Homo sapiens: one gene and its partners. The protein of the gene in region 2 purifies or fractionates together with the protein of the main gene of each other region. This does not show direct contact. Each region holds a gene or a part of one and is shown on either strand. Other genes may lie near its edges.

Region 1 (7,614 bases), on a different chromosome or scaffold from region 2:
TAGAGTCTATTAAGCACCTACTATATGACTAGCATGGGGCTAGATATCCTCCCCTGTTATCTAACACCCATCACAGCCTGTAGTCACAAGATCAGTTATGCTAGAAGAGGAACTGAAATTCAGGTTTCCTGATGTTCATTCACTGTCACCCCCCACCCCCATCTTTATCTGGCCCAGGGACTCAAGGTCAGGGCTCTGAATCACATGAGCCCCAAGAAGATGTAGGTGCTGTGTGATTTTGAGTGACCTTTATAATGTCTCAGGGCCTCTTCAAAACTGCCAATCTAAGACCTAGTCTGAGATGGCATCCATACCCACAGCATATACAACAAGTTTGTAGGGTGAGCTAGCAGCCTCTAGCCAGACTCCACCTCATAGCGGCCAGCCCTGGAGCCAAGAGAAGCATTCTCAGCCAACATTCAGGAACAAGGTATAAATTCTCCAGGCAAATGAAGTCAAAAGGTCCACGTTCCTTCATTCAACAAGCAAAACAGACTTTCTGCCTCGGGGGCAGAGTGAGGCCAAGCCCACAGATTTATATGGCTTTATTTGTTTCTGATTTTAGAAATTTTCCATCAATGAATGCATTTCCCTTCACCGACAACTCCCCGAGATGCACGTTGGCACCATCACACCCATCTTACAGATGAGGAGAACAAGACTCAGGAAATCCATGGATTGAGACAGGGGAATGATCAGAAGCCAAGCCTCCCTGCTTTCAGTATCACCCGCTTTCCCCTACACAGCACTGTTCCTCACTCTCAAACACTTCCAAGATGGTAGAAGGGAGGGGATCAGGGTTGGACCTATCCCTTTGCTACCAGAAATGTGTGATGTCTTGACCACAGCTAGCAGCCAAGAGGCAATGGAATCGGGTTTTTGTTTTTGGGGTTTTTTTGTGAGATAGGGTCTCACTCTGTCACCCAGGCTGGAATGCAGTGGTGCAATCTCAGCTGTAGCCATGACCTCCCAGGTTCAGGCGTAGCTGGGCCTCTCACCTTAGCCTCTCAAGTAGCTGGGAATACTGGCGCACACCACCACGCCCAGCTAATTTTTGTATTTTTGCAGAGATGGGGCTTCACCATGTTGCCCAGGCTGGTCTTGAACTCCTGAGCTCAAGCAATCTGTCCACCTCAGCCTCCCAAAGTCCTGGGATTACAGGTGTGCACCACCGCACCTGGTCTTGGGTTTTTTTTAAATTGACAAACCATAGTTGTATACATTTATGGGGTACACTGCAATGTGAAATGTATTCTCTTAGTTGTTTTGAAATGCACACAGTTCCTGACTTACAATGGTTTGACATACCATTTTTCAACTTTACAATCGTGCCTAAGTGATAAATATTCAGTAGAAACTGTACTTTTAGTATCCATACTGTTTTTCACTTTCAGTACAGTCTTCAGTAAATCACATGAGACATTCAACACTTTATTATGAAATAGGCTTTGTGTTAGATGATATTGCCCAACTGTAGGCTAATGTAAATGTTCTGGGCATGTTTAAGGTAGGCTAGGCATGTTTAAGGTAGGCTAGGCTATGATTCTCAGGTTAGCTGTATTAAATGCATTTTCAACTTATGATGGGTTTATCAGAACATAACCTCATGGAAAGTTAAGGAGCTTCTGTATATAATACATTACTGACGATAGTCACCCTGGTGTGCAATAAATCTCAAAGCCTATTCCTTAGCAGAACTTGGTGGCCCACACCTGCAGTCCCAGCTACTCAGGAGACTGAGGTGGGAGGACTGCTTGAGCCCAGGAGTTTAAGGCTGCAGTGAGCTACAATCGCCCCACTGCACTCCAGCCTGGGTGACAGAGTGAGACCCCACCTCTACTCTCAACTTCTGTAAGTTCAACTTGGTTAGAATCCGCATATAAATGAGATAATAAAACAGAACTACCATATGAGCCATTATCCCACTTCTGGGTATATATCCAAAGGAACTGAAATCAACATTTCGAAGGGCTATCTGCACTCCCATATTCATTGCAGCATTACTCACAATAGCTAAGATATGGAAATAACCTAAGTGTCCATCAACAGACACTTGATGGATAAAGAAATTATCCATCAACAGACACTTGATGAAGAAATTATCCATCAAATTGAATGCATAAAGAAAATGTGGCATATATACACAACAGAATACTATTCAGCCTTTAAAAGGGGGAACATCTTGTCATTTGCAACAACATAGATTGAATCTGAAAGACATTGGGCTAGCTGCAATAAGCCAGGAACGAGGCTTTTTCAGGTGAAGGGATTACAGAACTTCCCTTTCCCAGGGATCTGCAGCACGGTGTGAATGAGAAGTGAAGGAAGAAGCGGTGTCAATGAGAAGTGAAGGAGGAAGCTTGGAGGGTACGGGGACTGTTGTCTCAGTGGCTCATAACCAAGGGCAGCGGGGTCACAGGCCTGGGTATTTGTCACCAGATGGGCAAATCTGGATCCTCTGGCCTGGAAAAGCTCTCAAACCCTCCCAACTCTCAGGAAGACCTCAGGGCATTCGAGCAGGGGAAGAGATGAGGCAGCAGGCCTTATCATGGGGGACATAAGGAGTGGGGGTCAGGAGTAAGGTGCAGGGTTAACAGGACTGAATCTCTGGGGGCAATGCCTTAGTTTTAAGGCTGTCTGCATTTTCACTCCGGCGCTTGGAGGGAGGGCAGGAGAGTGCAGACGTGAGATTAATCTCTCCAAAAAGGGCCTGGAGCAGAACAAGTCTTTAGAGGCCACCCTCATTGTACAGACCAGAATCCCATAATTAGTTACTTTGGAAGGCTCTAGTGCAGAGAACCAATTCTAGAGAACGGAGTGGCCACCCCCATATCTCAGCCAGACCCGCACACCCGTAGCTGGGCCAGGAGGCTGCAAACAGACTCTTAAAAGAGGGTGCACTCACCTTTTTCAGGTGGGCTTGCGCAGGGGCCGCGAGAAGCAAGCCCAGGGCGATCAGGAGGGGAGCCTGCATCAGGGACTGCATCGGGAAGGGTGGGTCAGGGCGGAGTTAACTGCAAGGTCTGTGGCGGCAGAGGTGCCTTTAAATGCCTTCCAGTATTGGTTACGCAAAGAAGCTGAGTCCAGTCACTGGCAGGTTCGCCCTGCCCCGTCCCGGCCAGAGACTTCCCGGCCGAGAATTGGACCGATTCCTCCCGGCTCCGCCCCCTCGCTCTTTTCATTGGAGCCTGTCTCTCTAGCGTAGGTGTCAAGGCCTTCCCTCTCTGGGGCGTAGGCGGAGTTGGAAGAGAAAGGGGCGGAACTGAGCGCGGCGGGGCTGAAGGCGGCTGGAACGGAAGGGAGCTTAGCACGAGGTTGGGGCGGGATCACGAGGGCGGGGCGGAGCTGCGCGCGCGGGAGGGGCGGGGGCGTGGCGCGAGGAGGGGCCGAGCGGAGTCGGGGGCGGGGCGGAGCAGAGCTCCTGGGAAGGGCGGGGCCGGGCAGGGGATGGGGCGGAGCTGTGGTTTGTGAACTCGTGCCGGGGCCGTCACCTTTGGAAGGACCTTTGGGAAACCGCGGATTCAGTGTTTTCATCCCCAAGTCCTTCCGGACAAAAATGTCAGACTCTCTGCCATGTTACGCTTCCCCATATGTGTGTCTTTTTTTTTTTTTTTTTTGCTTTGAGACGGACTCTCGCTCTGTCGCCCGAGCTGGAGTGCAGTGGCGCGATCTCGGCTCACTGCAACCTCTGCCTCCCAGGTTCAAGCGATTCTTCCGCCTCAGCCTCTCGACTAGCTGGGACTACAGGCACGCGCCACACGCCCAGCTAATTTTTGTGTTTTTAGTAGAAACGGGGTTTCACCGTGTTGTCCAGGACGGTCTTGATCTCTTGACTTCACGAATCCGTATCTTTTTAATAATTATAACCGTTATAAAAACTAACATTTAGTAACTGCTTGAAAGCATGCTAAGGACGCACAAGGGAATGCTTTTTTTTTTTCTTCCCCAATTTTAGCACTGAGGAAACTGATACACAGTGAGGTTAGCTCTGCCAAGGTCGCACAGCTAGGAAGGAATAGAGCAAGACTTCTTTTTAGACACCCCATCAGCCAAGATTTTGTCAGGTTAATATACTAGTTGGAGATTTGCTTTTAGAAAAAACAGGGATGTTGTTACCAATACCGCCAATTTACCACAGGATTGTAAACTACACAAGGGGTGGCATCATGATGCAGGCACTCATTTATACCCAGTGCCTGATGCATAATAGACAATCTGTTGAGTACATGAATGCATGTGTAGAATTTAAAACTCACCTGATCATCTTTTTTAAAGTAAACTTTTTATTTTGGTTTACAGAAAAGTTGCAAAAATACTACAAAGTTCTGTTCGTTTCCTCTATTGTTGATAAGACACCCGTGGCCTGGCCGGGGGTTCAGACTGCAGACCCAGAGCTTGTGCTTGTGCATAACTGGGGGGCACTGCCAGCGACAAGGAGGTGGCAAAAGAATAAAAAATTAAAAAATTTTTTTTAAATCTGAGGGCATGACATTGGTACACTATTATTAACTAAGCTCCATACTTTACATAATGATCCTCCCATTCTGATCAACTCTTCCCTTTCACCTAGCCCAACTGAGGTAGGAGAATAGAGTCTGCAGGCAGGGAACCTAAGGCCATTTCACGCTGACTTCCTAGAACTAAATCGAAAGGAAAACCCTAACTTTCCACACCTAAGTAACAAGAGGACCAGAGGCTACTCTCTTTACAACCCCCCACCTTTTCTGTGCAGCAGATGGGAAATTGAAAGTACATTTCGATTTCTATGCTACATTTCAGTTTATATGTTAAAATTGCATAGAAGTGCAACTTTGTAACTTCACTTCAGCCTGATTGGTTGCTTTCCACAACCAATCAGATGTTTGCACAGGAGCATGACCTTTGTAACTTCACTTCGGCCTCTGATTAACCAGTCAGACTGATTGCGGGCCACCACTTCATTTACATGAGGTGAGCACCAAGTGGCCAATGGGAAACCTCTAGGGGGTATTTGGACCCAAGAAGATTCTGTATCTGGGCCCTTGAGCTGCTGCTTGGCCCGCTCCCACACTGTTGAGTGTACTTTCATTTTTAATAAACCCTTGCTTTTGTTCTTTCATTGCTCCATTTTTCCCTTGCTTTTCTGTGTGTTTTCTCCAATTCTTTGTTCAAAAACGCCAAGAACCTAGACAACTTTCAGTCAAAACCCTCTACTGGTAACATATTTTGGCAAGCCAGCCAGGAGAGAAGGTAGGCCCAAAGCTTGGGATTTATTTTTCTCCATTTCCCTTTTAATGCAGGGGAATTTTTCTCTCCCTCTCTCTTTTCCTTTCCAACTCGGAACCCAACTCGGTGGACAGCGCCTAAGCACAGAGGAAATTGTAAGTTTCTGGCCAGGGCCACTCTCTGGTGAGACTGAAAGGCTTCCGTGTCGAAGCACTTGACCGCCACTGCCTGGTCACTGAGAAGTCTTTTTCCTTGTTTTCATTTTTCTGAGTCCTATTCCTTTTCTTTTTTTCTCTCTTTTTTCTGAGTTCTATTCCTTTTTGTTTTTTGTTGTTTTTTGTTTGTTTGTTTTTTGCTTTTTCAGTCTTTCACTGGTCGTTTCCTAGTAGCTCCTTGGTAATTGAGGGAAACTGGCCGGGGCCACTCTCCAGTGTTCTCTGAAGGCCAAAGAGTGAACAGGGACGGCTGCCCTGCCCAGAAGGGTGAAAGACTCTTTTCTGTCCTTTCTGATTATAGATCCCTACCTGTGTCTGGGTTGGCAGCAGCAGCAGCTCATCCAGGGCAAACTCACACGTTTCAGGTGACTTAAACCTTATGCTAAATTCTTCCCTTCCCTTCCCCCACTTGACTGGCTAAGGACAGAAAACCCACCTAGCTATGCAAAAAGGTTATATGAGTCAGAGGGTCCAGGCATGTCGTAGGTGGTCTGTGTGATGCATGGGGAGTGGGGGGAATTCATGAAAGGTAATCTATTATTGCCTAAATTGAGAGAGTTAAAGGGTTGCTTTGCCGGCTGCGGTGGCTCACGCCTGTAATCCCAGCACTTTGGGAGGCCGAGGCAGGCGGATCACGAGGTCAGGAGATTGAGACCATCCTGGCTAACACGGTGAAACGCCATCTCTACTAAATATACAAAAAATTAGCCAGGCATGGTGGTCGGCGCCTGTAGTCCCAGCTACTCGGAGGCTGAGGCAGGAGAATGGCATGAACCTGGGAGGCAGAGCTTGCAGCGAGCCGAGATCATGCCACTGCACTCCAGCCTGGGCAACAGAGCAAGACCCTGTCTCAAAAAAAAAAAAAAGTTGCTTTAAGTGGCATGGGAAAACCTTAAGGAAAGTTCACAGTAGGTCTTCAGTGGTGGAGGGAACCATTCCAAAGCAATGCCTGCACCTATCTAAGGTCAGAGACATCTAACAGGCTAAGTCAGGGCCCTAATGGGGAGATGCTCCCAGGGACCCCAGTCTGGGCCCAGAATTTTTCCAGGAGGATGCCTCAGGTAAAATTTGGGTCACCTGGTCAGTCCTCTTCTCTTTTCCAGACCACTGTGGGCAACTCTCTACCTATTCCACCTGATTCCCCGCTCGGCTACGTCCTCCACCATTGCGATCAATTTGACCCTGACAATCTAAAGAGAAAACATATAATTTTTTTCTGCAGTACTGTCTGGCTCCATTATGAGCTGCCCAGCCTGGAAAAAATGGGTAGTCAATGGTAGCCTTAATTATGACATCATCCTGCAATTAGACCTATTTTGCAAGAGACAGAGCACATGGTCAGAAATCTTGTACATGCAGACTTCCATGACGCTTTACCAAAACCTAACAATCTGTGAAACTCCCAGAACCCACCCCACAAAGGAAAGTTCTAAGGGAGAACTACATATTATAGATGACCCCCTCTTACAAGGGCCACCTGTCTCTCAGAGTGAACAGTGACCACCCCCATATAGCCCCTTGCAAGTGCTCCTGAGGCTCAACCCCAGGAGCAAACACCAGAGACCCTACTAAGTCCCCCTCACATTCGGAGGGGAACCCTGTATTCAGCTCTTCTTCCAGCCCTGCTACACCTTAGGGAAGTAGCAGGAGTTGAGGGGCCAGTCCTAGTGCAGGCCCCCTTCTCTATAACTAATATTCAACAATGTAAGGAAAAGCTAGGAAGCTGTTCTGAGAATCCTAGGAAATTTGCAGATGAGTTCCACACTTTGACCTTAGCCTTTGATCTCTCATGGAGAGATGGTCAATTCATTCTAGCAACCTGTTGGCACTCCCTCAGGAAAGGAACAAATCTTTGAGGCTGCCAGCAGGGAAGTGGATGAATTATCCACCTGAAACCCTCAGGGCAATTACCGAGGCCCAGACACAGTTCCCACTACTGATCCTAATTGAAACTATAACGCCCCCATGGGAATGAACCACCTGGCTAAATTTCTTGAGGCTGTCCTTGGAGGAATGAGAAAGGGATTAACTAAGGCAGTAAATTATGATAAAGTAAGGGAGGTTACATAAGGCAAGGAGGAAAATCCAGCCATGTTTTATGGTAGGCTGGAGGAAGCCTTTAAATATATACTAATCTGGACCCTTCTTCTCCCGAAGGCAAAATATTAATGGCACAGCATTTCATTAGCCAATC
Region 2 (7,021 bases):
CTGCAGCCTGCAACCTCCACCCTCCACCTCCTGGGCTCAAGAGATCCTCACATGTCAGCCTCCCAGGTAGCTGGGACTTCAGGTATGTACCACCATGTCCAGCTAATGTTTGTATCTTTTGTAGAGAAAGGGTTTCGGTATTTTGCCCAGGCTGGTCTCAAACTCCTAGGCTCAAGAAATCACCCACCTCAACCTCCCGAAGTGCTGAGATTGCAGGCATGAGCCACTGCACCTGACCTTGCCTGCTTTTTTTCTTTTTTCTTTTTTTTTTTTTGACACTGAGTCTCGCTCTATCACCCAGGCTGGAGTACAGTGGCGCGATCTCGGCTCACTGCAACCTCTGCCTCGTGGGTTCAAGCGATTCTCCTGCCTCAGCCTCCCAAGGAGCTGGGACTACAGGCGCCCACCACCATGCCTGGCTAATTTTTGTATTTTTAGTAGAGTCAGGGTTTTACCATGTTGGCCAGGCTGGTCTCAAATTCCTGACCTCGAATGATCCACCCACCTCGGCCTCCCAAAGTTCTGGGATTGCAGGCATGAGCCACCGCGCCTGGCCTTGCCTGCTTCTTGAGCTGCTTCTTGCCACCTTCAAGGCAAGACTTGGTTCTTGCCACTCTTACCCCCTACCCTGCTACCAAAACCTACATCTTGTTTTTTTTAGGCATTTCAAGGTAGATTACACTTTTAAATCAAGTGGTTAAGGTAGGATCTCCTGAAGTAGATATCTGGGCAAAGACTTGAAGGAGAGAAGGGAGTTAGCATGTTATCTGGGGACAGTTGTCCCAAGCAGAGCACAGCCAAGGCAGAAGCCCTAAGACAAGAGCATGACTGGCATGTTCTCTGAGCAGTACTAGGGCCCTGTGGTGGAACGAAGTAAGGGAGAGAGAGTAGTAGGAAATGAGAGCTGAGGTGTAATGGGGAGCAGATCATGCAGGACCTGTATGCCATTATGAGGGTTTCAACTTGTACTCTGAATGAAACGAGGAATTATTGGAAGGTCTTTGGGCAGAGAAGTAATGTGAGCTGACTCACATTTTAAGAATCAGTAGGCCAACTGCAGTGACTCACACCTATAATCCCAGCACTTTGGGAGGCTGAGGCAAGAGGATCACTTGAGCCCAGGAGGTTGAGGCTGCAGTGAGCCAAGATTGTGCCACTGCACTCCAGCCTGGTCAACAGAGTGAGACCTAATCTCAAAAAAAAAAAAAAAAAAAAAAAAAAGAAGAAGATGTGGAGTGCTTCAAATCCCACCAGAAAATCTTATTTCTATAGTGCCCTGTTCTTGTGAAGCTAGCATATGTAACTCTGCTACATAATCCAAGGTCTCCTATAAATGAATTTTTAATACTCATTTTTTTAAACTTTGTTAACTAAAAGGTTGAGATTTAAGCTCCTAACTAGTTTGTTTCTTGCGCAGCCCACAGAACTTAATTGCCCAATCTCAGTCTGGTACTGGTAAAACAGCTGCCTTCGTGCTGGCCATGCTTAGCCAAGTAGAACCTGCAAACAAATACCCCCAGGTAAGGATTTATGAATTTAGGTTTTCTACTAATGCATAGATAGAAGGGGATTTCCATTTGATGGATTAAAAGACAAGCTATGGGCTGGGTGCAGTGGCTCATGCCTGTAATCCCAGCACTTTGGGAGGCCGAGGTGGGCGGATCACCTGAGGTCAGGAGTTCTAGACCAGCCTGGCCAACATGGTGAAACCCTGTCTCTACTAAAAATAAAAAATTAGCTGGGCCTGGTGGCATGTGCCTGTAATCCCAGCTACTTGGGAAACTGAGGCAAGAGAATCATTTGAACCCGGGAGGCGGAGGTTGCAGTGAGCTGAGATCGCACCATTGCACTCCAGCCTGGGCAAAAAGAACGAAACTCTGTCTCAAAAAAATAAAATAAAAGCCAAGCTATGCATTACTTTTTACACAAACTGAAACTCCTTAAATTGAGCACAAATAATACGGGATATCTTCCAATGGCAATAAAAATCCTGTTTCCTTTTTCCATGGTGTGCCAGTTCTGGGATGCTTCTTACAGGCTTGGCTCCTTTACTTGCAGGAAAACCTGTTTCATCAGCAACTGCCATCCATTAGAAAGTTCTGAGAGCTTTCTGAGTAAACGAAAAGAAAGCTAATGCCAATTGGAACTTTAGATCCTTGCTCATGGGTGGGTTTTTGTATTGCAGTGGCCAGTATCTGTTTTCAAGTGTCTTTACCCAGCCAGAGTTCTGACCCCTAAGAATTCTAGCTTATGACTCTGTAGCTTAAAGAATCAAATGGTGTACATTTTAATGTACATATTCTTTCCTTCAGCTTCAGCTGGAGGAGTGGCTAAGTACTAATGGTAATTCCCCTTTGCAAAAGAGCTATTGTCTTGAATTTGCACTCTGCATTCTTTTCCTGCCAGTGTCTATGTCTCTCCCCAACGTATGAGCTCGCCCTCCAAACAGGAAAAGTGATTGAACAAATGGGCAAATTTTACCCTGAACTGAAGCTAGCTTATGCTGTTCGAGGCAATAAATGTGAGTATGTGAATTTGGTCCTAAATCATCAACCTAATTCTTTTTATTTTGAAATATTTCAAAACCCACCCAATAGTTGAAATAATACAATAAACACATGTATGTTCTCCAGCTAGATTCAAAAACTTAACATTTTGCCATATTTGCTTTACATAAATGTATACATTTTTGTCAAACCATTTGAAAGTAAACTGCAGACATGCACCTCATGAGGACATTCTTTGCCATACCTATGGATACCCTTTTATCACAACCAGGAAAATTAACAGATTTCCTAGAATAACTAATACCAGTCCATTTTTATTCCTCCCCAGCTGTTCCCAAAGTCTTCCTTTATAGCTGTTTGGTTTTTCGACCAAGATCAAGTTAGCGTTTATACGTTGCGTTTGGTTGTTGTACTTGTTTCTTTCAATCTAGAATTGTACCCCTACCTTTTTCTCTCCCTATTATATTTAACATTTTGCACAGACCAGACTAGTTGCTTTTCAAATATTCTACATTCTGGCCGGGCGCGGTGGCTCACGCCTGTAATCCCAGCCCTTTGGGAGGCCGAGGCGGGCAGCAGATCACGAGATCAGGAGATTGAGACCATCCTAGCTATCATGGTGAAACCCCGTATCTAATAAAAATACAAAAAAATTAGCCAGGCGTGGTGGCGGGCACCTGTAGTCCCAGCTACTTGCGAGGCTGAGGCAGGAGAATGGTGTGAACCTGGGAGGCAGAGCTAGCAGTGAGCTGAAATAGCGCCACTGCACTCGAGCCTGGGCGACAGAGCGAGACTCCGTCTCAAAACAAGCAAACAAACAAAAAACAAACAAACAAAAATTCTACATTCTAGATTTGTTTATTTTTATTTATTTATTTTAGAAACAGAGTCTTGCTCTGTCACTCAGGCTGGAGTACAGTGGCATGATCTTGGCTCACTGCAACCTCTGCCCTCCGGGTTCAAGTGATTCTCCTGCCTCAGACTCCCAAGTAGCTGGGATTACAGGTGCCTGCCACCATGGCTGGCTAATTTTGTATTTTTAGTACAGATGGGGTTTCACCACGTTGGCCAGGCTGGTCTCAAACTCTTGACCTCAGGTTATCCATCTGCCTCGGCCTCCCAAAGTGCTGAGATTATAGGTGTGAGCCACTGTGCCCAGACTTCTTTCTTTTTTTTTTGAGAGAGAGTCTCGCCCTGTCGCCCAGGCTGGAGAGCAGTGGCACAGTCTTGGCTCACTGCAAGCTCTGCCTCTGGGGTTCACACCATTCTCCTGCCTCAGCCTCCTGAGTAGCTGGGACTACAGGCGCCCACCACTACGCCCAGCTAATTTTTTGTATTTTTAGTAGAGACGGGGTTTCACTGTGTTAGCCAGGATGGTCTCTATCTGCTGACCTCGTGATCCTCCCGCCTTGGCCTCCCAAAGTGCTGGGATTACAGGCGTGAGCCACTGCGCCTGGCCGCCTTCTTTTTTTTATTTTGAGACAGTTTCGCTAGGTCACCTAGGCTGGAGTTCTGACTCCAGGCACGAGCCACCGTGCCTGGCCACACCCAGCTAATTTTCTAAAAATTTTTTTTGTAGGCCAAACATGGTGGCTCATGCCTGTAATCCCAGCACTTTAGCAGGCCGAGGTGGGTGGATCACGAGGTCAGGAGATAGAGACCATCCTGGCCAACATGGTGAAACCCCATCTCTACTAAACATAGAAAAATTAGCCAGGTGTGGTGGCATGTGCCTGTCGTCCCAGCTACTCAGGAGGCTGAGGCAGGAGAATCACTTGAACCCGGGAGGTGGAGGTTGCAGTGAGCCAAGATCGTGCCACTGCACTCCAGCCTGGGCGATAGAGCAAGACTCTGTCTCAAAACAAAACAAACAAAAAAAAACAAACAAATTTTTTTTTTTTTTGTAAAGACAGTGTCTTGCTATGTTGCCCAAGCTGGTCTAGAACTCCAAGTCTCAAGCAATCCTCCTGCCTCGTCCCCTCAAAGTGATGGGATTACAGGTGTGAGCCACTAGGCCAGGACTGAATTTGTTTAATTGCCTAATTTATTTATCTTCATTAGCAGAATAAAAACCCAGAATGTTTATGGCTATTGACTCTGGGGCTTATTCTGTTAATTATTTTTTGTTACTAATTTTTTCTACACTAGTTTGTTTTACAGTTAATATTATTTAAGTAATTTTAAAAGTGTTGTTGGCCGGACATGATGGCTCATACCTGTAATCTCAGCACTTTGGGAGCCTAAGGTGGGTGGATCATTGTAAGGTTAGGAGTTCGAGACCAGCCTGACCAACATGATGAAACCCAGTCTCTACTAAAAATACAAAAATATTAGCTGGGCATGGTGGTGCACACCTGTAATCCCAGCTACTCAGGAGGCTGAGGCAGGAGAATTGCTTGAACCCGGGAGGGGGAGGTTGCAGTGAGCCGAGATTGCACCACTGTACTCCAGCCTGGGCGACAGAATGAGATTCTGTCTCAAAAAAAAAAAAGTGTTAGAGGTTTGGTTGAGTTTTATGGATCTCTGAAACAAATGTGACCTTATGAAAATCAAGTCTGCATACAGTGTCCTAATGCCAACTTGAGGCCAGTTCTGAAAAGTAAATAATACAGTGAAACTTATTGGGAGATAATCATTTAAAATTTTGCAATTTGTATTCGAATTAGAAGGGTAGAGAATTCTGAATTTTTTTTTTTTTTTTTTTTTTGAGACAGAGTCTCAGTCTGTCTCCGGGCTGGAGTGCAGTGGCGCGATCTCGGCTCACTGCAACCTCCGCCTCCTGGGTTCAAGCGATTCTCCTGCCCCAGCCTCCCAAATAGCTGAGATTACATGAGCCCACCACCACACCCAGCTAATTTTTGTATTTTTAGTAGAGATGGGGTTTCGCCATGTTGGCCAGGCTGGTCTCGAACTCCTGACCTCAGGTGATCCGCCTGCCTCAGCCTTCCAAAATGCTGGGATTACAGGCATGAGCCACCGTGCCCGGCCCTTTTAGTTATTTTTAAATGTACAATATATTGTTGACTGTAGTCACCACATTGTGCTATCAAATGCTAGATCTTACTTATTTTAATTGTATTTTTGTACCCATTACCTTTTCAGCATTTTTGTCTGTTTTTATGTCCATTAAATGCTATAGTGATATCCTAACCTTTCCTTAATATATTAATGCAAACAGCAAAACATTTGCATTAAAATATATAATAGGTTTAGAATTTCTCAGAGAGAAGAGCTGGCTTTGCCTTTGAAATACCCATGGAGGCCGGGCACGGTGGCTCATGCCTGTAATCCCAGCACTTTGGGAGGCCGAGGCAGGTGGATCACCAGGTCAGGAGTTCAAGACCAGCCTGGCCAAGAGAGTGAAACCCACCTCTACTAAAAATACAAAAAAAAAAAAAATTAGCCAGGTGCAGTGGCAGGTGCCTGTAATCCTAGATACTTGGGAGGCTGAGGCAGGAGAATCGCTTGAACCTGGGCGGCAGAGGTTGCAGTGAGTCGAGATCATGCCATTGCACTCCAGCCTGGGCAACAGAGTGAGACTCTGTCTCAAAAAAAAAAAAAAAAAAAAAGAAAGAAAGAAATACCCACACATGGAAAACATCTTGGGGTCTCCACAGTGGAAAGAGGCCAGAAGATCAGTGAGCAGATTGTCATTGGCACCCCTGGGACTGTGCTGGACTGGTGCTCCAAGCTCAAGTTCATTGATCCCAAGAAAATCAAGGTGTTTGTTCTGGATGAGGCTGATGTCATGATAGCCACTCAGGGCCACCAAGATCAGAGCATCCGCATCCAGAGGTAGGGATCTCGAGGGTGGGGGACTCCTCAGATTCCCCATCTGCAGTGTCTTCTCCCTTCACTTCAGATGCCTCCTCTGGCTTCTGCCTGGGTCTTGGCTCTCGTACTCTCAGCAGCATTTGTTTGACGGGCCACTTCCGTGTCAGCGCTGGCCACAGTCCCTCCCAGCCTGGGTTGAGAAAGGAGACCTAGGGACTCTCCCCCAACCCCTGTCCCCATCCCAGGCCTGCTGCTCCTCCTCCCCAAGACGCTCCTCTCCCATCAGCCTTCCTGGGCATCTAGACCCTCCCAGCTGGGAAGGCTGTGCTTCTGTCGCTTCCCGGGGCCACCTGGGGCCACCTACCAGGGCCTTCCCTTGCAGGATGCTGCCCAGGAACTGCCAGATGCTGCTTTTCTCCGCCACCTTTGAAGACTCTGTGTGGAAGTTTGCCCAGAAAGTGGTCCCAGACCCAAACGTTATCAAACTGAAGCGTGAGGAAGAGACCCTGGACACCATCAAGCAGTACTATGTCCTGTGCAGCAGCAGAGACGAGAAGTTCCAGGCCTTGTGTAACCTCTACGGGGCCATCACCATTGCTCAAGCCATGATCTTCTGCCATGTGAGTAGCAGTGGCAGTGGCAGGCCTGGCCCTTCCCTCTCAGCCAGCTCCCCACAGGGCTCAGGAGGACTGGATGCCCCTGGGTGCCATGGGAAGAAACGAAGTGGTTTGTTCTCCTAA
Region 3 (7,021 bases), on a different chromosome or scaffold from region 2:
TTCCCAGCTCAGCTTCTCTGCAGCCCAGCGCCTGTCTCCACTCTCCCAGTGCTGGGTGCCTGCTGGACACCAAAACCTTGCTCTGCCAGGGGCCTCAAAGTGCTGATGAGCCTTCTCTTCAGGGCCCCAGGCTCTGAGAGGGTGGAAAAGTATGTAGTAGGGAGGGGAAGGACTGAGTCTAGAACAGAAACCTTCTTTTTTCTCCCCATATCTGCTTTCTGCAGTCCTGCTGTTGCAATGCCCCTGAGTCCAGCTCCAAATTACATACACGATCACTTAGCTCCCATCCCCAGCAATTAAAGATCCTCTCCAATTAAACCAACCCCAGCCATTCTTTGTGGTCCAGGGCAAATCACCTCTCCTGCTCTGACCTCCAATTGCAAGGACAGCAAGAAACAAGGGCTCCGGCCCTGGTTCCAGCAGAGCTCCTGATGCCATCCACATGCCACGGCAGTGGCCGACTCCTGTAGCAGGGCCTAGAATGGACCTTCAGGAGCAAGGCATTCAGGCACATGGGGGCTCTGCATGTGAACTACAGTCCCCGATCACTGAGGTCTCAGTCAGGGTCAGATATGTCAGATCTAACGGGCACTGGGGATCATCTCAGTCCCCACATAATAAAAAGCAAGGAAGAGTCTCAGAGAGGGTATCTAATTCATCCAGGACCCCACCGTCAGCAGGTGGCCTGGACCCCAAAGCCATGCTTCCCTGTCATGCTGCTCTTCTGATATGCCTGGCCTCGGGTCATTAGATATTGACCCTAAATATATCTATTCCCGACTTTCCAGTCTCTCCCACCCCCACATTATCACCCCAATGGCCTCTATGCTGTCAGAACTGGAGAACTGCCCCCAGGGAGGTGGGACCCATCTCTAGGAGGAGGCCTGTCCTCCCACTGGGCTGTTTTACAATCCCAGAGCTGGCAGAACCCAAGCTGCCATTCCACTAGCATAGGCATCCAACAAGCATTTGCCAAATAAAAAAATCAAGGCTGCCCATTTTATAGATCAGAAAACTGAGGTCCAGAGAGTGTATGCTTAGCTAGTCCCCTGCCCATTAGCCCTGGGTCTCTACTACCCTCTGCTGTGTACAGGTATTCAGGCCACTGCTGCCTCCTTCTCCTCCACCCCATGGCCCAGAGAAGTCCTCCCACAGGCCCTGGAACCGATTGCCTCCAGGGAGCCCCCTTCAGTGCCCAGGTCTCTGGATGTGCCCAGGCCCTCCCGGCAGCACTTCCCTTACCAGCATAGTCTGCTTGCCAGATTTCCAAGTCTGGGGCTGGGCCTTGGGGCTTTGGCTCCGCATGAGGGAGGGATAGCCTGGGAAGACAAGAGATTCAGGTCAAAGGGAGCAGCGCTGGTGGTCAGGGGTGCCCGGGCCCAGAGCAGCACAGCTGCCTTCTCCAAAGTGACCACCAAGCATCATCCAGCCCATTACCAAATGCAGCCGTCTGAACACGCGTGCAGCAGCCAGGGTGCCGCAACCGAAAATCCTGGGGAGGCTGGCCAAAGGGAGGAGGCAGCAAAGCAGACAGAAGGAGGAGGAGCCGGCCAGGTGGGCTGGACCAGGCAGCAGGGGAGTGTTGCCCCCACATCCAGCGCAGCATCACACTGCTCTGCAGGGATTTCCACTCACCCACCCCGGAGGTTTACACCACGGGCCCTCCCCTTCCCAGAGCCCAGGAGCGCCACGCATAAGCATGGCCTGCCAGAGTTTCCCGGCAGGAGGCGCTCACTTGGACTCCCCTGTGCTGTTTGGACGATGCTTCCCATTCACGGAGCCCCACTTGTGCCAAGCACTGTGGAAGGGACTTTGTAGATGTCTCCTCACTGAGCCTGGCCCCGTATCTATGAGCTCAGCAGTCTGCCTGAGTTGCACAGCTCATAAGCAGCAAACCAGGTGCTGGGGAGCACCGCAGGCAGGCGGGGGACAGAGTGCCGGAAATCCAAAACCCAAATTCATGTTTTTTTCTCCCTGGCTTTGTGGCCCCTCCCCTGTTTCACTAGCCAGAGACTAGGGCCTAGAGAGGTGCAGGAATCTGTCATTGTGGCCGCCACCCAGGGTTAGGATGGCAAGCCCAAGAGGCCTGGAGCAGGTGCGCTCTCTGAGCTTGGTTGCAAAGATGCTAGTCTAAGACGGGGCCGCCTTGACTCCCTGCGCCTCAGCCCAGACAGACCTGAAAGGAGCTCTGGTTCACAGCACAGTGAAGGCACTCTCAGTGTCAGCCATCAGCCTGCAGGGACGCCTGGGAAGACACAGGCCATGACCTGGATGCTGAGGCCCTCAAGAAATAAGCAGGGTCTGTCCTGGGCCAGATCTCTGTCCAGTGAGAGGCTGCATGCGGTCTGTCTCGGGAAAGCCCCTCTCCTGCCCTGCTCTAAGCGAGGATGAGCAGGTCAGGCTCATGATGAGCACCGCCAGGCTGCCAGTTGGGTTGGCCCTTCCCAGGTTGGCACTGAGCAAGGAGGAGGGGGAGGAGACAGAGCAAAGAACCTGGGTCTCTTCCTGCATCTGAGGGTGGGAGCAGCCTTGGAAAGGGGGGTTCCAGGGATCCTGAGTGGAGATTAAGAGGGGTAATTCAGGCCTCATCTCTCAGTTCCCAGAAAGAAAATCCCATGCCAGCCATGAGAGAGGGGAGAATGGAAACAGGGGTGGGGTCAGGGTGGCCCAAGACACCCGCCTTGTGCAGCAGGCAGAAGTCCAGATAGAGAGTATGCTGGGGTGGCAGGTGGGGCATGCATCCCTCTCCAGGGAGCTCTGGGGAGAAGGGACCGGCACACCCTAGAAGTGGCAGAGAGCCCCCCATGTCCCACCTGCCCCGCTGTGGGAGAGAAAAGGGGAGGGATGGAAAATGGGCAGATACCGGGATTATTTTTAGACAGCCCACTGCGACCCAGTGGTTTGGAAAACTCTGCAGTGGCCTGTCCCAAGGTGGTGAACTGATAAGGGGTTTTCCCAGTGCCTGCTGGGAGAGAGAGAGGCATTAGTGGCACAGCGCTGGTCCCAGAGGGGCCAAAAGGACCCACACCTCATTCTGGGGGCTGCTCTGAATCACACCTGAGAGCGGCCACCTCCCCTGCCAGGTGCTCTGTGGGCCAGGCTTGAGCAGAGAGCAGAAAGGCGCCTGCTAGAAGCCAAACAGGCCAAGGCAAGTCCTGGAGCTCCCCAGGCCCGGATCAGAGCTAAGACATGCCCGGGGCTCCTGCAGGCTGGGACCCTCCACCCATAGTCCTGTCTCCTCCCTCTTGCCGGCAGCTCCAAGAATCCCTGTCCTGGGTATAGTATAGGACCCTGGGCCGGAAGGGACAACTGAGTGATGAGGCCTCAGAGACCACTGTTCAGGGGTCTCTCTGCCCTGCATAGCCCCTTTCCCTCTCCTGAGCCCACCCAATGTGCTGATCTTGACTTCCAGGCCAGATGTTTGGGGTGCCAGAAGAGAGACAGGGTTACTCCCACCACAGCCATTAGAGCTGTCCCTGGGATCTTTCAGGAGATACATGAGGGTCTGGGGCCCATAGCCAGAGTCTGGTTCAAGCCTGCCCCCTCAGGATGCCCCCAACCCCAGGGGACAGGAGGCGTCAATCACTCTGCCTTGTCAGAGTGCTGGGAGCACCACAGGCAGGCGGGGGACAGAGTGCAGGAAAAGAGGATCAGCCTTGGGGGGACTTAGGGTCGTCTGGTCCTGCCTTTCCCAAAGGGGCGCCTGCAGGATTGGATCTGCAGGATGCTGGCAGGTGCCCCATGGCCACAGGACCCTAGAGCCAGCCAACGCTGGGAGTTAAATAAACTCTGCAGTAGGAGAAGCAGCATCCTGAGGATCAGAGAGGTCGAGTGCAGGGGGTATGGCATGTCCCCCGGTCCTGACCACTGAGAGCTGTTGTTGCAGCGTGTAGTTAGAGACTAGAGAGCGGTGAAACAAGCCCTGGGAAACGCTGATGTGGCCCAGCCCCCACCCCTGCCCTCATTTTCAGCAAAGACCATGGCGGTAGCTCCCGGGCTCTCAGGCCAGGCCTCTCTCCTCCACGAGGTGAGGGAGGAACTAGCAGCTCAGCGAAGAGACCCAAGCAGGGCTTGGGAGGTGTGAGGCAGCTGTGGAGGAAAGCAGGGGCCAGGGTGGGCAAGCTCACCTTTCAGGGAGAAGGAGGAGCTGCCTTGGACGACGGGCAGGTCATTGTCAGAGTTCTGAATGCTGGAGGAGTACTCCCAGACCCGGGAGGTGTAGTTACCTGGCAGGACAAAGAAGGGCTGTCAGGCCCCCACAGCTGGGAGTGGGAGAGGAGGCAGGACCAGGACACAGCCAGGTCTATGACTCTCTAGCCGCTGGCCACAACTTAAGCCAGGATGCCACTGTGTGATCCCAGTGACGCCTCACCCCCATCCTTCTGCCACCAAAGCTATCTTTCTAAAATATAAAGCATAGTCTTGTCCCTGCCCTACCTAAAGGCCACTGTCCTCAGAATAAGGGACAAAGTCCCAAGAGCAGCCCAGAGCTCTGTCGTGAGTTGCTCCCCCAACCCCCACCACCCACCCACCATCTCCCACTTCTTGACTTCACCTCTGCCCTCCCTCCACCACTGGACATTCAAACCAGGCTAAGCCTCAGTGTCTGAGACACTCCATCTTCTCTCCTGCCCCAGGCTATGTGCCCAGACCCTGTCCTCTGCCTAGGACACTTCTCCTGCTTGCCACCCTCGGCGATTCATGGGTGGGGTCTTCAAGTGTCAGCTTACATGGCACCTCCCAACGTCTGCATGTGCCTTCAGCTTCATCCCCACATCGTCCTGCAACCCCTACCCTCTGGGTCGCAATTACATGTTCAATTGTCTGTCTCCCGCAGTGAGCTCACGTGAACTGGGAATGTGCCTGTCTGGCCCCTGCATCACACCTGGTGCCTGGCACAGAGCCTGGTTCCTGGAAGGTGCTCATTGTATGGTTGATGGATAGAATGCATGAACCAACGAACGAATGAATACAAACACATCCTAAAACTTGGGGACAAGACAGTTGATAGTTGCCAAGTTGAATAGGCTAACACATGCCTATGTGCAGACATGTTCTATAGTCCAGAGGAGAAGAAGGCAGTGGGAAAGGGGTGGGAGAAGCTGCCAGGGCACTCAGAGGGCACTGGAGTGGGGGGCTCAGAGTCCCCATGGGTGACGCACACTTCTCCAGCACCACACCCCCACCTGCCAGGCTTGAAGCATCAGTGACCTCCTTAGTCAAGCTCACTCCTTAGCAGCCTGTGGGGAGGGCTGGGGGCTGACTTTTGGGCTCAGGGGTCACAGATGGCTGGGGTTGGCCACCTGCCCCTGTGCAAAGCCCTCCCACAGGGATCCCAGGCAGCTTCTGTAGCAAGGCCTCAGTAAGCACGTCCAGCCAGGGTTCCGCGAGGCCAGACACCTTGCCCTCCTGTTCACTCATGCCTTTAGCCTCTCTCTCAACAACTGCTTCCTGACCCCCTCCTACTTTTGAGCTCTGGGCCTGTAGCAGCGAACAGGACAGACACAGCTCTGTCCTCAAGGTGCCCAAGGTCTACTGCATATGTGGAGGAGGGGTGCCGCTGATCACGGCTGTGAATCCAATTCTGGATGTAGAGGCCCAGGCATTGCTCTGGTGCCCCTGACCCTCCAGTCTCCATGAGTCTTGCCCTCACTGAAGAGTCCTCCAGTGCTATGTCTAGGGTGGGGGCTGACCCAGTCCCCTCCCTCCCTGTGCATGGCTGGCATGTGACCAGGAGCCCCCAGGACAGAACCAGGGTCTCCCAGAACCAGGTCTCATTGAATGCATGGCCCTGCCCTTGAGCAAATGGTCCCCTCAGAGCACTGGGCAGAGGGAGACCCTGAACTTAGCAGCTTCCCCTGGGGAAGCCACATCCCCACACCCATTTCATCCCATCTGGGTCTTAAGGTGCTGCTCGCTTGCCTCACCACCTGGAGCTCCAGGGCCAGCCCCATTTCCTGCCGTGCCTTCCTTTCCAGTCACAGCCAAGTTGACAACTAACCACTGTACGACTTTTCACTGCAGAAGTACTCAAATCAGTAGAGATTCTCTTTGGGTCCTCGTGCCCTCATACTTGTGGGGGGGGTGGCGCATTCCCCACACTTAAGCCCAAGGTGGCTGCTCAGACCCAGTTTTCCCCAGATCCTTCCTCAGGGATCAGAAGAGCACACAGACTCAGGGATCTCCAGGGATGCCGAGATTCCTGGCTGTTTTTCCTCCAGCCTAACTAATGGTGTCCCCCACACATGTACACACACACACACACACACACACACACACACACACACACACACACACTTTAAGCTCGGTAGGTAGGACCCCTCCCTACCCATGCCTGGACCCTCCACCCATCCTAGCTTCCCACATTCATCTCACACTGGGGTCCCAGCCCTGTGCCCCTGGACCCACCTCTATGCCCCTCCTGCCTGCACAGCCCCACATGAACTCTGTGCACCCTTGAGCTGAGCCACCACCTACCTTTGGTGCCATAGAGATTGTTGAAATTCTTCTGGGTGGTCTCCTTGGTGAAGCGGCCAGGAGACGAGGGCTGGTATGATGTCCGGACCCCACCTGTGAAGCAGATGAAGGGGGCTGTCATTGCAGAAAATTGTCTCATCAGGACTCCTTGCCCCCAAAAAGTTGCCCAAGTGCCCATCACAGGACCTGGATTCCACCACTGAGAGAAGTCCTTTGGGTCTGACATAAGTCAATCAACTAATTTATCACCCAAATTGGCATGCTTTTGAGAGTAGAAGGACTCTGTTAGTAACCGTGCAGAGAGCATCAGCATAAACTTGGAGAGGCCATGGCAACCACGAGGGCAGAAGCAGTAGGCTCTCAGCCACGTGAGGGTGGGGCCTCCTGGAAGTGGCCTAATGAGCCAGAAACACCTCCCAGGGGCCCACCCAGGCTGCTGCTTCCCGGGAGATCAGAGCCTCACTTCACAAGTGCTTTCCTTCCCGCACACCTGGGCTCTCACAACAGCCTTGTGAGGAAGCAGTGGGGACTGATACCACCACCG

What was found. Proteins that work in one complex are often made in the same cells at the same time.
Region 1: the proteins of DDX19B (region 2) and GM2A purify together in Homo sapiens (affinity purification with mass spectrometry; 2 studies listed by BioGRID and IntAct, with this or other methods). This does not show direct contact.
Region 3: the proteins of DDX19B (region 2) and TRIM29 purify together in Homo sapiens (affinity purification with mass spectrometry; 2 studies listed by BioGRID and IntAct, with this or other methods). This does not show direct contact.

The regions. Positions count from the first base shown.
Region 1 is NC_000005.10:151,248,589-151,256,202, reverse strand, and holds the start of GM2A (ganglioside GM2 activator isoform 1 precursor), read right to left. Parts: upstream 3,019-7,614; 5' UTR 2,987-3,018; coding exon 2,906-2,986; intron 1-2,905.
Region 2 is NC_000016.10:70,323,168-70,330,188, forward strand, and holds part of DDX19B (ATP-dependent RNA helicase DDX19B), read left to right. Parts: intron 1-1,417; coding exon 1,418-1,520; intron 1,521-2,406; coding exon 2,407-2,521; intron 2,522-6,124; coding exon 6,125-6,302; intron 6,303-6,663; coding exon 6,664-6,901; intron 6,902-7,021. UniProt on the Homo sapiens protein: ATP-dependent RNA helicase involved in mRNA export from the nucleus.
Region 3 is NC_000011.10:120,114,096-120,121,116, forward strand, and holds part of TRIM29 (tripartite motif-containing protein 29), read right to left. Parts: intron 6,571-7,021; coding exon 6,478-6,570; intron 4,227-6,477; coding exon 4,128-4,226; intron 2,966-4,127; coding exon of another isoform or gene 2,864-2,965; intron 1,320-2,863; coding exon 1,243-1,319; intron 1-1,242.